Linked DNA regions of Homo sapiens: region 2 is linked to region 1. Evidence: fine-mapped expression QTL. Tissue or cell type: whole blood. Region 1 holds a variant in brackets; the other region holds the start of a gene. All regions are shown on one strand. Distances are from middle to middle.

Region 1 (8,106 bases):
GGGGAGTTTTTCTAAAAAATGCCCAGGTCCAGTCTCTATAGTTTTCTATTCTATCATCTGAGATAGGGCATTTGTATATGTAATTATTTAAGTGTTCAATGTCTTACCTTCTTGCTGGACTGTTTATGAAAACTAAGGCCTGTGTCCCCAGCGCCTAGTACAGTGCCTTTGCTATAGCTGTTTAATAATTGTTAAATGACTACTTCTATTTGCGACATATTTTAATTTCGTATCAGAAAGAGCTGGAACTATTCTTTTGCAGAAAAACCAAAAGAATATTTAATATCTCTATTGGAACGACTGAGAATTGCAAAAGTAACAGGCGTGGCGTTTCCTTTCTTTATGGATAACTCTAACATTGTGGCTATGTTTGAGATGATGGACTCCTCAGGCAGAGGCACCATATCATTTGTGCAGTATAAAGAAGGTCAGTACATTCTACAAATTGAGGTAATAGTTTGTGGTCATTCCACAGTTTTTTCTAGCAGAAAATACTTCTCACTTTGTAAAATTCTCACTTCATTTCTTCTCATTATTTTACAGCCCTAAAAACCCTGGGTCTATGCACTGAAGATGAAGATTTACAAGATGATGGACATAAAATAACTTTGGATAAATTCAAGGAGGAAGTGTAAGTTTATTTTTAAGTGACAAATATTTTAATAAGGTGGCATGATTTTGAAGCACAATTAATACCTTTAAAACAGGTTCCTATCTTTTGAAAGAAATATTTTGTTCCCTTGAAACTTTCAGCTGACTGGAAAGTGAGGACAGGTAAGGCTGACGGTAAAGTCCCTAAACTTGGGAATAGGAAGGGAAAATGCTGGGGTTAGAGAGGAAGTTCCAGAGGCAGCTCCATTCTTTTTTTTTTTTTTTTTTTCCCTGAGATGGAGTCTTGCTCTGTTGCCCAGGCTGGAGTGCAGTGGCAATATGTCGGCTCACTGCAACCTCCACCTCCCGGGTTCAAGCGATTCTCCTGCCTCAGCTTCCCAGTAGCTGGGCTTACAGATGCGCATCACCACATCCAGATAATTTTTTTGTATTTTTAGTAGAGTCAGGGTTTCATCATGTTGGCCAGGCTGGTCTCAAACTCCTGATCTCAAGTGATCCACTGCCTCGGCCTCTCAAAGTGCTGGGATTACAGGCATGTAATGGGCTGTGCCCAGCCAGCTCCATTCTAAATAGGAAGCCCCAGCAATTCTCAAAGGATGAGGTGAAGAAGCACCAATATGCTAGGACAACTAACAAACAGAAACATTTTGAGCTCAACACACTAGCTGGAAACTCTCTCTATAAAATACATACTAATAGAATCTATCTCAAAATATTTCCTCAAAATTATCACAAAGTAAATGTTTATCAGAAGCATAGGCTGCATGTTAGTCTGATAATTTTAGATTTTGAGATATTACAGGATTAAAAGTACTAACCCACTGCTAAGTCAGAGAAAAACCATTGGAATAAAATTTAATAGTTGTGGAAAGTTTCCAGGGAATCTAGCTCAATTTTTTAAAGAGTTTTACTCTGAGATTTTATTAGTCAAGTAACTATTATTGAATATACCCCAAGGACAAGGAAAAGTTACAAGAAAAAATAAACTTTTGAGACTTTTGTCTCATAAGTTACATAAATAATAAAAATGTTTAATTACATTCCCTACCACATGGGAATGTTTGAGTCAGAGTGCCATGGCCTGAAATGTTTCATCCAGAAAGAAAGGGTTGCCCACTGTCACACAGAATGAAACTAGGAAGCATTTAAAATAGAAGGGCATTTGTGAGAAATGAAGAACAATCCTATCTTATTCACCATCTCACAATGTGTTTTGTTTTGTTCTTTAGAGACAGGGTCTTGTTCGCTTGCCCAGGCTGCTGTGCCGTGTCACAATCAGAGCTCACTGTAGTCTTGACCTCCTGGGCTCAAGCTAGCCTCCCACCTCAGCCTCCCAAGTAGCTAGAACTACAGGCATGCATCAGGGTCTTGACATGTTGGCCAGGATGTTTTCGCACTCCTGCCTCAAGCAATCCTCCTACCTCAGCCTCCCAAAGTGCTGGGATTACAGGCATGAGACACTGTGCCCTGCCAGTTTCCTCATGGAAATACAGTTAATTCCCAAACTAGATACAGGTGCCTCAATTACAAATATGCATTCAAAGGGAGTTTTAAAAAAATTTATTGGCTATGTTTGATTATCCACAACAGAATTTCCCTTAATTAGCACAGGAAATTGAAAGTTGGTTATAATTTAATATCTCTGCTCGTCTTCAACAGACATACTCAGCATTTATACTTGTAAATAGAATTGAGTTTTCATTGTTTCGTTTTCTGTTTTTGTTTCCTTAGGAACAAGAGGATGAAGGAAATATGGTCAGCATTTTAATAACACCATAAATCCAAGATAATAAGTAATTCTATAAAGTTTTCCAGTTTCATTAATTCAGAATTTCATCATATAACTTGAAATCCAATTGGCTTCCTCTTTCTTAGAAACAAAAACCAAAGAAACCTTTTTCTGAAAGACATTATTTTCCAGTATTAGGCCAATTTGTCCTCAAATTAAGTAGAATCTCAACATCTTGTTGAGCCAGTTTGTAAATTCCAACTTCATTTAATGCTGCTGTGGCAGGAAGCTGCCCTGAAGCTGACTGCAGTACATCTTTCAGCAGTAGTGCAGAACCGACGTTCAAATTCAAAACAATACAGGCTTCTTTTATACTGTTTAGGGAAAACAAAGGAGGGAAATGAGATCTCCATTATCTGCATCAATTATATTACAATTTTGAGAATCCTAAACAGCTTCTCTGCACTGCTGGTCCACATGTTCTCTATAAAAATATTTATGGATTTATTATTTGGTTCTTTTAACATGGTAAGACTACACAGGTGCAGAGTTGCTATTTCTTTAGATTACTATAAGGTAATACGATCCCTATTTCAATATGTATCCGTTATTTCCCTAAATACAATACTTAATATTAACACTATATTAAATATAGCTATAACTTTAGGTAGATTAGAACATGGGAAAAGACAAAAATAAGAGATAAATGAAAGCAGCAGAAAGAACATTAAAATAAATTTTAAAAACAGTCCTATGAAACGTGTAAACATAAGCTTTCATTTTATAAGTCTAAAAGGAATGCTTTATAACCTCACAAAACCCAAACATAATTTAAATTTTACTTTTTTTTTTTGAGACATGGTCTTGCTCTGTCACCTAGGCTGGAGTGAAACTGCACGATCATAGCTCACTACAGCCTCAGCCTCTCAAGTAGCTAGGACTACAGGTCCACACCCCCACACCTGGCTTTTTTTTGTTTGTTCATTTTAATACTTTCTGTAGAGATGGAGTCTTGCTATGTTGCCCAGGCTGGTCTCAAACAGCTGGCCTCAAGCAATTCTCCCACCTCTGCCTCCCAAAGTACTGGGATTACAGATGTGGGCTACTATGCCTGGCCTATAAATTTTAGATCAACAAATTCTGAAACTATAATTATATTTAGAACCAAAATTAATGTCAAATGTTTAAGGAAACAAATTTCTTTCAGGCCTGGCCTATTAGGTATTAAACATATTTGTAATTTTTTTTTTTTTTTGAGACAGTCTTGGCTCACTGCAAGCTCCGCCTCCCGGGTTCACATCATTCTCCTGCCTCAGCCTCCCAAGCAGGTGGGACTACAGGTGCCCGCCACCAGGCCTGGCTAATTTTTTTTTTTTTGGTATTTTTAGTAGAGATGGGGGTATCACTATGTTAGCCAGGATGGTCTCGATCTCCTGACTTTGTGATCTGCCCAACTCAGCCTCCCGAAGTGTTGGGATTACAGGCGTGAGCCACCACGCCCGGCCCTGTAATTTCTTATATTTAGTGAATAGGGCACAACTGTACTTGTTTTCATTTTCTATTTATTCCTCCAGTAACTAAGCAACTAGAAGCATTAAACCAAATACTAGAAAACAAAACCCAACAGGTAATTTATATCTAGTTCTGAAACTTTTTGAGGTCATGGGTCACATCTATCATCTTGGTTTCCCCATTGTGCTGTAAGCATACAGTAGATAGACAATGTTTTAAAATTTCAACTGATCTTATCCCACCCAAACATCTCCAGAACCCTAAAGTTAAAAGGAGTTAGCCTCCTGTAACAATTTGATACATTAATATTAATTGTTAAATGTTGAGCTTACTGTTTAAAATAATTTTCTGGTCTCTTGCAATAGTGAGAAAACAAAGGGAAAAGATTCCGAGTCATATCAAACTGCAGCTGGGCTGCTCCTCCTTCATTGAAGTGATTAGCAAGAATTATCTGAAACAAAGAATAATTCATATAACAGTTGTCTTTATTATCACAGCCCAAAAACAGTCTATTCTT[A/T]CTTACTTCTTGGTAGATGTATACATCCAGCTTCTCTACAAGCATTTGCCAGAAAATTTTAAATAAGGAGAAACAAAGCTGCTGCTCCAACTGAAGTAAATGGTCTCGTAACGTCAGCAGCAACGGGCAAGCCGAACTGGACAGGGACATCACTGCCTGCTCTGACTGAGATGGCAAGGACAACCATCTGGAAAAAACACATTTTTACCAAAAAATTTTCATCAGTTTCTATTTTTCAAGTTTTTAAATCATTTTAAATTTGAGGAAGTGTTCTGTCCTAGGGCATTTTGGATAAGAAAAAATATACAGCCTAACATTAAAAGCTCTATCAGAAAATAAATGTACCTGTATTTATATTTTCACTCTCAAATACTCTTTAATATGGGGATATATCCAAAATATCCCCAAATTTTAATATGTGAATTACTGATATAAGGCAATTACAATTTAAAATGTCACTTAATTTTTGCATTTTATTTATGTAGTTTTTCTTTTTTTTTGAGACAGAGTCTCGCTCTGTTGGCCAGGCTAGAGCCACAGGGTTCAAGCAATTCTCGTGTCAGCCTCCCAAGTAGCTGGGATTACAGGTGCCCACCACCACGCCCAGCTAATCTTTGAATTTTTTAGTAGAGACAGGGTTTCGCCATGTTGGCCAGGCTAGTTTCGAATTGCTGCCCTCAAGTAATCTGCCCGCCTTGGCCTCCCAAAGTGCTGGGATTACAGGTGTGAGCCACTGCACCCAGCCTGATTTTAGCATTTTAATTAAGACATCAGCTAATATTATCCTCTAATTTTTAGTAAAAACAGGACTAATAAACGAATTTTAAGCACTCTGTGTGGCAGGGACTATGCTAGGACAAAAAGATACTGCTTGCTATCAAGGATGAAAGTAACACAGGTGTTCACAGTGAATGGTAGTGGGATAAACCACAACAAAAGTATGCAGAGTACCACAGGTGCACTTTACTTTGCAAAATGGGAGACAGGTTAGGCTATTCAACCCCAGATCACACACTATCCTATTGATATATTTACAAACAACTAAATTATAATCAGTTTATTCTGATTAAGAATGTCAGCCAGGTGTGGTGGCTCACACCTGTAATCCTAGCACTTTGGGAGGCCGAGGCAGGTGGCTTGCCTGAGGTCAGGAGTTGGAGATCAGCCTGCCCAAAATGTGAAACCACATCTCTACTAAAAATACAAAAATTAGCCTTGTGTGGTGGTGCATGCCTGTAGTCCTGGCTACTTGGGAGGCTGAGGTGGGAAGGTCACTTGAACCTCTAAGGCAGAGGTTGCAATGAGCCAAGATCGTGCAACTGCACTCCAGCCTGGGTGACAGAGTAGGACTGTCTCAAAAAAAATGTCCAAGAGAACATACTTTAGAAATATTTCCATCAACAATAAAGTACATAAGGCCAAACCGGGTTCTATCTAGACACCTTGAAAATCTGACCACATATTCTTTAACTTTTACCAAACTGGTGTTAAGAGCTGACTTACATAGAGGACATACCTTTCTTTTTTATACAATTTTGCAGCATCTTTAACTTCTCTAAAAACGTGGTCTACTTGACGGGTCAACATATCATGCTTTAAACGTTCTAAGAGGTTAATCATGTCATCAAAGACAGAGCTCTCCATAGAGGCTAGCTGTCCTAGCTGCAATTTACTCAGAGTATTATTCTCTGCAAACACCTCCAGTGCAGCCTGTTGAAGTTGTAGAAAGAACTGAAAGCAAAAACATGTTAACACATTAGCATACTTTTTTTTTAACAGTTTGAAATAGAATTCATATGTCATACAATTCACCCATTTAAAGTGTATAATTCGACCGGGCACGGTGGCTCATGCCTGTAATCCCAGCACTTTGGGAGGCTGAGGTGGGTGGATCACCTGAGGTCAGGAGTTCGAAACCATCCTGGCCAACATGGTGAAACTCCAACTCTACTAAAAATACAAAAATAAGCCGGGTGTGGTGGCATGTGCCTGTAATCCTAGCTTGAACCTGGAAGGTGGAAGTTGCAGTGAGCCGAGATCATGCCTCTGCACTCCAGCCTGGGCGACAAAGTGAGACTCCATCTCAAAACTAATAATAGTGTATAATTCAATGATTTTTTTATATATTCAGTTGTATATCCATCACAATTTTAGAACATTTTCATCACCAAGAAAAAAGCCGTTATCCTCTAATACCGTCTCCCCACTCCCTCAACTCATAGGCAACCACTAATTGACTTTCTGTCTCAATGGATTTGCCTGTTCTGGACATTTCATATAAATGAAATCATACAACGTATGGTTGGTTGTGACTGTCTTCTTTCAGTACATTTTCAAGGTCTATCCATATTGTAACACGTATCATATTGTAACACGTATCAGCACTTCATTTTTTTTACATTGCCAGGTAATATTCCATTATATAGATAGACCACATTTTATTTATCCATTCATCAGCTGGTGGACATTTGGGTAGCTTCTACTTTGTCTATTATGAACAAATGCTGCTGTGAACATTTTTGTACAAGTTTTTTTTGTTTTGTTTTTTTGTTTTTTGTTTTGAGACGGAATCTCGCTCTGTCACCCAGGCTGGAGTGCAGTGGGGTGATCTTGGCTGACTGCAGTCTCCGCCTCCCGGGTTCAAGCGATTCTCCTGCCTCAGTCTCCTAAGTACCTGGGATTACGGGCGTGTGCCAGCACACCTGGCTAATTTTTTTTTTTGTAACTTTCGTAGAGATGGTGTTTCACCATGTTGGTCAGACTGGTCTCAAACTCCTGACCTCATGATCCGCCCACCTCAGCCTCCCAAAGTTCTGGGATTACAGGCGTGAGTCACCAAGCCTGGCAGTACAAGTTTTTATGTGGACATATGTTTCATTTCTCTTGGTATGTACTGAAGAGTGGAATTGCTGGATCTTATGGTAAGTCTATGTTTTAACAGTTTGAAAGGCTAGGCATGGTAGCTCATGCCTATAGTGCCAGCACTTTAAGAGGCTGAGGCCAGAGAATCATTTTATAGTGAGACCTTATCTCTAGAAAAAAATTAAAAATTAGCTGAGTGTGGTGGCCACAGACCTCCCAGCTACTCAGGAGGCTGAGATGGGAAGACTGCTGGAGCCCAGGAGGCAGAGGTTGCAGTGAGCCAAGATTGTGCCACTGCACTGCAGCCTGGGTGAAAGAACGAGATCTCATCTCAGAAAACAAAAAAACAGTTTGCGGAACTGCCATACTGTTTTCCACAGCAACTGTACCATGTTACATTCCCACTAGTCAATGTTAAACTATTCTGAAATGGAACAATCTCAAGATATATTGTTAACCGGAAAAAGCAGAAGAGTTTGCATAGTATGTTACCACACGTTGACATACACACACCAGTATTTATATAAATAGCTTTAGTAGTATATACAAGAAATTGATCAAAGTGATTGGCTTTAGGGAAGATTAGAATTAAGACTTATTTTCACTATATATATATTTTCAATATATACAGTTTTGTGGCTTTTGAATTTTGTATCACATGGATTACATATAGTGAAAAATATTTTTCTCTTTCAACTTCTGTGTACGGTAATCATGAACTTAAAAAAAATGACACTATCGGCCAGGCGTGGTGGCTCATGCCTGTAATCTCAGCACTTTGGGAGGCTGACGCAGGTGGATCACCTGAGGTCAGGAGTTTGAGACCAGCCTGGCCAACATAGTGAAATGCCATCTCTACTAAAAATACAAAAAT
Region 2 (8,106 bases), 33 kb after region 1:
TCACTCTATGAAAATCTATGTAAAATGTTAGGTCTCACTATGTTTTGAAGACAAACCATATCAGTAGGAACTTTGTCTTTTACCTAATTTGTAAAATAGGTAATACAATGTACGTTCTTAAATCCTCTTAAACAGTATATAATAGACTATTTGTCACGTTCTATATCTTTAAAATTCTATATATAATAGATTATGTTTATATTATATTGTTAAAAGTATTCCACTGATAATTATTTCAGTGAGTTTCAATACTTACCTGTTCTTCTAACTGCATTTTACTTACTGTCCTCTGTTCTATGAGTTTATCAAGTTTCTTTAAAGATTTAAGGTCATTTCCAACTTCCTTTTCTATGAATGCAGACACATAAGAAGGGAGATCACCATTATCTGTACCTTCACTGACTTGTTTACTTCCAATAAGAACTGTAACATTTATGTCACCTACAACAAAAGAATAACAATTACTCAACGCCACTAAGTACTATGGAGTTAAAGAAAATATAAAACATATAAAAGCAGTTTATCTGCCTTCAAAAGTTAATAATTTTGCCAGGCACGGTGGCTCACACCTGTGATCCCAGCACTTTGGGAGGCTGAGGCAGGTGCATCACCTGAGGCCAGGAGTTTAAGACTAGCCTGGCAAACACGGCGAAATCCCGTCTCTACTAAAAATACAAAAATTAGCCAGGCGTGGGGGCACAGGCCTGTAGTCCCAGCTATTCGGGAGGCTGAGGCACGAGAATCCCTTGAACCCAAGAGGCAGAGGTTGCAGTGAGCCAAGATCACACCACTGCACTCCAGCCTGGGCGACACAGACAGACTCTGTATCAAAAAACAAAACCAAAACAAAGCGCCACTGCACTCCAGCCTGGGCGACAGAGACTCTGTATCAAAAAACAAAACCAAAACAAAACAAAGTTAATAATTTAAAGAACAACACACACAGACAAATGCCCAGAAGAATAGCTCTAAAGCACTCTATCAAACAACTACTGCAAAATGCTTAAGAGCTGAGGGAAGTATTAAAGGAAAAATTCCTAAAGTGTGATCCAGTAACCACAGGTTTCAATAGACAAGGAATAATACCTTTTCAAAATGTGTAAGGAACCAGTAGTATGGTCTAGGGCAACACCAAAAGAAGACTCTTGTTTTAAAGTGTTTTTAAAAAGACCGGGCGCAGGGGCTCACACCTGTAATCCCAGCACTGTGGGAGGCCAAGGCAGGAGGATCACTTGAGCCCAGAAGTTCTAGACCAGCCTAGGCAACAAAGCAAGACTTCATCTAACAAAATTAGCCAGGAATGGTGGAACACACCTGTAGTCTCAGGTGGGCTGAGGTGGGAGGATTGCTTGAGCAGCCTGGGAGATGGAGGCTGCAGTGAGCCATGATCTCACTACTACATTCCAGCCTGGACAGCAGAGCAAGACCTCATCTCTTAAAAACAAACAAACAAACAAACAAAAAAGTAAAAAAGGTTTGGCTGGGCGAGGTGGCTCAGGCCTGTAATCTCAGCACTTTGGGAGGTTGAGGCAGGCAGATCACAAGGTCAGGAGTTCGAGACCAGCCTGGCCAATATGGTGAAAACCTGTCTCTACTAAAAATACAAAAATTAGCTGGGCATGGCGGTGCACGCTTATAGTCCCAGCTACTCGGGAGGCTGAGGCAGAAGAATCGCTTGAACCCGGGAGGCGGAGGTTGCAGTGAGCCGAGATCACGCCACTGCACTCCAGCCTGGGCAACAGAGTGAGACTCTGCCTCAAAAAAAAAAAAAAAAAAGGTTTTTAAGCTTCAAATGTCATCGATGTCATTGTACAAAGATATCTTTGTCAGAAACAGAAAAAAGAAAATATGAGAGAACAAATTACTAGGAAAAAATCAAAATGACAAATGCAACCACTAAATAGTATAAAGTGAGATTCTTTCCATGGCAAATAAACTACCTGTTTTGTGACATTTAATAAGTCCAATACACATTAGGCTTATTAATATTAATATCTAAATAATGATATGCCTAAGTGCAAAATGTAAATGTCAGATATTGGTCAACTATTTATGTAAAGATTAACAGAATATATACCAATGTTTTATACAGAGTATGTTCCTGTCTCCACCCCTACACCCCAACAAACAAAATTTCCTTTGTTCTACTTAACTTATATGAATTAAATTAAAAGATTTTTCACATGCTGTGAGAATCAGGAGGTGGTACTGACCTTTTCCCCCTTTCCTGTTCAGTGCAAGATCCAGAACCCAAGCTATACATTGTGCCTTCCCAGAGCAATTTTAAATTGACAATTTAGAGGGTAGGAGAGGCAATATTAACATAACACTATGCCTCAATTTTCCAACTAGAAAACAAATTGTAACATTTGCCCCAGCCTATATCTCAAGGTTATAAATGGGACTATATAATACAAATTATATATTAATTATACTATATAATTATATATAATATTAACGTATAATAATCTACTATTATGTACAGAACTCACAATGCCTTTTTTAAATCTTAAATAAAACAAGTGATTTGTGTGGTGTATCTGCAGATAAATGGAGGCAGGAAATGTTTTGTGAATGCTAAAGTTGCTGTATCTTAGGGAGGAAATTCTACCTTCATTTTTTAAAAAAAATTACACCCACTGAGCACAGTGGCTCATGCCTATAATCCCAGCACTTTGGAAGGCCGAGGACGGTGGATTGCCTGAGGTCAGGAGTTCAAGACCAGCCTAACCAAAATGGTGAAACCCTGCCTCTACTAAAAATACAAAAATTAGCCGGGTGTTTGGCGGGCACCAGTAATCCCAGCTACTGAGGAGGCCGAGGCAGGGGAATTACTTGAACTCAGAGGCGGAGCTTGCAGTAAGGCGAGATCGCGCCACTGCACTCCAGCCTGAGAGACAGAGTGAGACTAAGTCTCAAAAAAAAAAAAAATTACACCCTTGATGTGTAACCATTCAAATGTGGCATAGTACATTCTTAGTGAAATGACATTCTTCAAAATGACACACCGGTGGTTTGGGAGGTTTTTATGTGTCTCCTTTTCTATTTTTTGTAAAGAGCACTCCTAACTGCAAAGCAGTTTGAGCTGTGGAAAGAGGAACAAGGTCAAAGTCCTTGATATGATAGTCTACATCTATTATTTTATTAAAATGACAGCTCAGTAGGCATCAGACTACTTTCCAGGCATCTGAATGAGGCAAAGGTGGAAAATGGAAAGGGAAGGGTTTAACTGAGAGATACAAGGCACTCTGAAATCCTTCAAGAAAAAGGAGCTGAGATGTGGCAGTTATGACAGTCATGTGCTATGGACTGCTCAGAGCCTTCTTTCTGAGGCAGATTCTATCAGCCGCTAATGTTAAGGGCAAATCTTACTCCTAAGGGCCATGTGCTAATGTGGGCACCGTTTTTCTTACTGCTACACATTCCCAACTGTTTGCCACAGTCAAAAGAACCAAAAATCCCAATAGCAGAGCTATCACATGCTTTTCCCCTTCCTCTCCCAAAAAATGTCACTTCAAAGGTCCCTAAAGAGCCCTTGATTTGCAATAACCTGCCATCAAAGTAAAATGGCAAAAGTCCACAACCCTGACATATACTCCCGTACTAGGGAGGAAATGGTGGTACTGACCTTTTCCCCCTTTCCTGTCCAGTCCAAGATCCAGAACCCAAGTTATCCGTTGTGCTCTTGCCAGAGCAATTTTAAATTGCCAATTTACTGAAGGTGAACTAAACAACTGTCATTTGCCTCCTTTGAACCCAATTAGGGTGGTGGTCGTCTGTCCTAGATCATGGGCCCCTCCAAATTCCTGATGCTTAGTAAGTTGATGTTTCATTAAAATGACAGGCAGGCCCCAATTATTCTGAGTACTGTATGATAGGCAGACTTCCAGCGAAAACACTCTAGTCCCTGTACTAGGTATGGATCGGGAAGTGCTCTTCTCCAAAGCATCCCATATTTTACAATTTTAGAAAGACAAAAATATGTGTATCATGGTCATCAGTATTACCATATAAGCATATTGTGCAGAAAACGGTACTGCATCTAAAAGATAGGCAAAGAACCTTTCTATATTGCAGACCCTGGAAGGCTGAGTTTGGGCGGGAAGAAAAAGCTAAGGTGTTTGGAGCTGGCTTACTTTTCTCCTCGAGGTTCTTCCTTTCGTCACCACTTTCAGAGCAGCACTAGAAGAAGAACAGATGTGACAAGCACATTAAGATTAAAGTCGTGGATGGAAAGCATACGGGGCTCCCAAAGGGCACCCACTGGAGGCAAGAGAGGTTCCAGACGCTCTCCCACTTTCTGAGCGACCAGGGCCGTCCGAATCAGGTACCTCAAAGTGCCACTGTCCTGGTGCCACCGCCACCTTCCCAGGAGGTGTGTGTCACCTCCGCAGGACCTGGAGTTACCTTGCCTGCTCACTAGAGCCACCTCCCTAGAGAAATCTGTCATCTCACCAGGGCCGCCAAAGCCACTTCACGGGGACTACCGCCTCCTCTAGGAGGTCTTACAAGGGCCTCTAATCTAAGCCGCAGGAAGCACCTTCACAAGCTTACAGGGCCACCGCACCGGGACTATCTCCCCCGGGAGGTCTGTGCCACCTCAATGGGCCACCAATGTCCCCTCCCAGGGACGCCAGGGCCGTCTCACCGGGGCTGCAGGAGAGGCGCCGATCTCGCCGGCTGGTAGCATCTCGCCTCCGCGCGAGTCCTCGGCTCCATTCGCAGCCAGCGTGGCCTGTGGAGTCTGGCTAAGGCCAGCGACACACTCACTACCCAGCCTCGGAGGCCGTAGGACTGAGTGCCACAGCGACTTCCTCTCGATGTCTCACTGGTTTCTTCCTCTCAGCCCAGAGAGGCCCTGCCCGTGCAGCCGCCGGCCGTGCTCTGTTCCTCCCCCTCCTGACCGGAGGTCGGAACGGCCACTCAGGAAGCGGGCACCCTCCCCTATGGAGCTCCAGAGAAGGGATTCGCTCACTCCACCGCGGTAAAAGTCCCCTCCACTTTATTGAAGCTCTTAATGATGGAACTTTAAGATATCCCTCTCCCAACGCCTTAAATTCAATATGAATAATTTAAATTTATATTTTAGGCAATATCCAGATGTTCTGAGAGTGTGGGGGGCTTGTTGACTAGGAGCTTCGGTGCAGGGTTATTTGGTTCGAATATTTAGTTGGGGGTTTCCAATGAATGTCAGTATCTTTAGATATTTCTTTTAACGTTGGTCAGAGTCCCTAGAGATGAGCTTCTGATTTCCTGCCTAGAGGGTGTAGAGGTGGTTATAAGCGTTCTGGGAGCTGAATGAAGAGAACAGAGCATCTAACATGTGTTTCGCCCAAAACCCTGTCTTTTACCAGGGAGGAGGAAAGGGAGCTACCTAGCAGCAAGGGTTGTGTAGAGGACCTGTGGACTTGACAGCCTCTTAAACAAACTAACACGGAAGGAGTACCATAGAGACCATAACAAACAAGGGGGGGGGAAAGCAACCCTCAGAGGAAAAAGAAACCACACGGTGAGAAGAAAAATCAAATACATGTGCACAGAGATATATAATCGAGCTACAAATTACTATTGCAAGCATAAAACAAGGATGGCTGGGCGCTGTGGCTCACGCCTGTAATCCCAGCACTTTGGGAGGCCGAGGCAGGCAGATTACGAGGTCAGGAGATCGAGACCATCCTGGCTAACATGGTGAAACCCCGTCTCTACTAAAAATACAAAAAATTAGCCAGGCGTGGTGGTGGGCGCCTGTAGTCCCAGCTACTCAGGAGGCTGAGGCAGGAGAATGGCGTGAACCCGGGAGGTGGAGCGTGCAGTGAGCAGAGACCGCACCACTGCACTCTAGCCTGGACGACAGAGCAAGACTCCGTCTCATTTAAAAAAAAAAAAAAAAACAAGGATACTATTTTTTAAATTACCTATTATGGGAACATAATCGTATATATTTATAGTGTACATGTGTGTTTGTTTTTTTTTTGCTCAGGCTGGGGTGCAATGGCGTTATCTCTGCTCGCAGCAACCTCCGCCTCCCAGGTTCAAGCGATTCGCCTGCCTCAGCCTCCCAAGTAGCTGGGATTACAGGCATGCACCACCACGCCCGTCTAATTTTGTATTTTTAGTAGAGACGATGTTTCTCCATGTTAGTCAGGCTGGTCTCGAACTCCCGGCCTCGGGTGAACTGCCCGCCTTGGCGTACCAAAGTGCTGGGATTACAGGTGTGAGCCACTGCGCCCGGCCTTTTTTTCTGGGGCGGGGCGGGGGACGGGTAAAGAAATTTTAATGAGGATTCAAGGTTTGTAGGGAAGACACAGAGGACCGGCGCTCAGCCCCAGCCTCCTCACGTGTACATGGCTCCATGGAGGTTCTCCAGTCGGTTCTGCTGCTGCTGCTGTTTTCGAGCCTTATCTCGTCTGTGTTCCTCATAAGTGTAGTCATCAGTGGGCAGCTCATGGCGGCACAAGGGACAGGAATTTGTCTTGCTTAGCCAGGGCAGAATGCAACTGGAATGAAAAAGGTGTTGGGAAGCATCTCAATGGCAGTCTCCTCCTCAGATTCCAAAAGATACACGGGGCACTTGAGCTCAGCCTTGAGAGCCTCTGATGACTGTCCTGGAGAGGTTCTCAACCACAATCTTGGCAGCCGGTGGAGGCAGGTGGTGGTCCCAATCTACTACCAACCCCAAGTCTTCAAAGTCCATCCTATTCAAAAGTGACCTTACGAGCTCCAGCACCATGTTGGTTCGAGTCTCCTGCTTGAGGGTCCAACGGCTCACAGTCGTGTTCATCGATATAGGACGCCATGGCTGCCCAGCCGTCTGACATGTGATGTTTTGATACAGGTATACAATGTGTAACTATCAAATCCGAGTAACTGGGGTATTGATCATCTTGAGAATTTATCATTTCTTTGTGTTAGGAACAGTCCAATTCCACTCTTTTAGTTATTTTAAAATATGCAATAAATTATTAACTGTAGTCACTCTGTTTTATTGTTGTTGTTGTCGTCATTTGTTTTGGTTTTGGTTTTTTTGTTTGTTTTTTGAGACAAGTTCTCCCTCTGTTGCCCAGGCAGGAGTGCAGTGGTGCAGCCATAACCCACTGTAACCTCAAACTCCTGGGCTCAAGGGATCCACCCACCTCAGCCTCCTGAGTAGCTAGGACTATAGACTGGCACCACCATTCCTGGCTAACTTTTTTTTGTTGAGACAGTGACTCGCTATGTTGCCCAGGCTGGGCTCTACTCCTGAGCTCAAGCGATTCTCCTGTCTTGACCTCCCAAAGTGCTAGGATTACAGCCATGAGCCACTGCACCTGGCCCCTAACTGTATTTTTGGACCCATTAACCATCCCCAATTTATGCCTTCCTCCCTGCTACCCTTTCAGCCTTTGGTAACAATCATTCTACTCTCTATCTCCTTGAATTCAATTTGTTTAATGTTAAGCTCCCACATATGAGAGAAAAGGATACTATTTAAAAGGAGCATTGGCTGGGCACGGTGGCTCCTGCCTGTAATCTCAGCACTTTGGGAGGCTGAGGCAGAACAAATTGCCTGAGGTCAGGAGTTCAAGACCAGCCTGGCCAACATGGTGAAAGCCTGTCTCTACTAAAAGTACAAAAATTAGCCAGGCCTGGTGGTGGGAGCCTGTAATCCCAGCTACCCAGGAGGCTGAGGCAGGAGAATCTCTTGAACCCAGCAGGCAGAGGTTGCAGCGAGCCGAGATTACACCACTGCACTCCAGCTGGGCAACAAAGCAAAACTCTGTCTCAAACATAAATAATTAAATAGATAAATAAATGAATAATAAAAGGAGCACTCACTTGTAAATGGGGAGGGTAAAAATAAATAAAATAAGAAAAGCATTCAGAGATGAAAAAATATGACAGCAGAAATTAAAATTTCAAGAGTGGAAAGATAGGCCAAGTGCAGTGGCTCACGCCTGTAATCCCAACACTTTGGGAGGCCAAGGCACGTGGATCGCTTGAGGCCAGGAGTTCGAGACCAGCCTGGCCAACATGGTGAAACCTGGTCTCTACTAAAAATACAAAATATTAGCTGGCCATTGTGGCACGTGCACCTATAGTCCCTGCTGCTTAGTAGGCTGAGGAACA

Evidence for each region. PIP is the estimated chance that this variant, and not a neighbour inherited with it, causes the effect.
Region 2: it holds the start of RINT1, and the variant in region 1 is fine-mapped to the expression of RINT1 in whole blood (TOPMed, PIP above 0.99).

What each region holds. Positions count from the first base shown.
Region 1 is chr7:105,561,728-105,569,833 of GRCh38, reverse strand. It overlaps RINT1 (RAD50 interactor 1), which reads right to left. Exons shown (of 15, transcript NM_021930.6): 12 at 5,887-6,101; 13 at 4,377-4,557; 14 at 4,186-4,304; 15 at 2,157-2,715. The coding sequence ends at 2,523. EFCAB10 (EF-hand calcium binding domain 10) reads left to right here. Exons shown (of 5, transcript NM_001355526.2): 2 at 263-427; 3 at 544-631; 4 at 2,344-2,367; 5 at 4,387-4,710. The coding sequence ends at 4,387. Among named protein-coding and RNA genes, the nearest start is that of EFCAB10-AS1, 5.3 kb to the left of the region's middle. The variant A/T (reference allele first, on the strand shown) is at 4,371.
Region 2 is chr7:105,528,900-105,537,005 of GRCh38, reverse strand. RINT1 (RAD50 interactor 1) reads right to left here and starts at 4,805. Exons shown (of 15, transcript NM_021930.6): 1 at 4,649-4,805; 2 at 4,137-4,182; 3 at 257-441. The coding sequence starts at 4,690. It also overlaps the pseudogene LOC100131785. RefSeq lists enhancers at 4,033-4,609, 4,455-4,634, 4,725-5,024, 4,610-5,187, 5,475-5,524.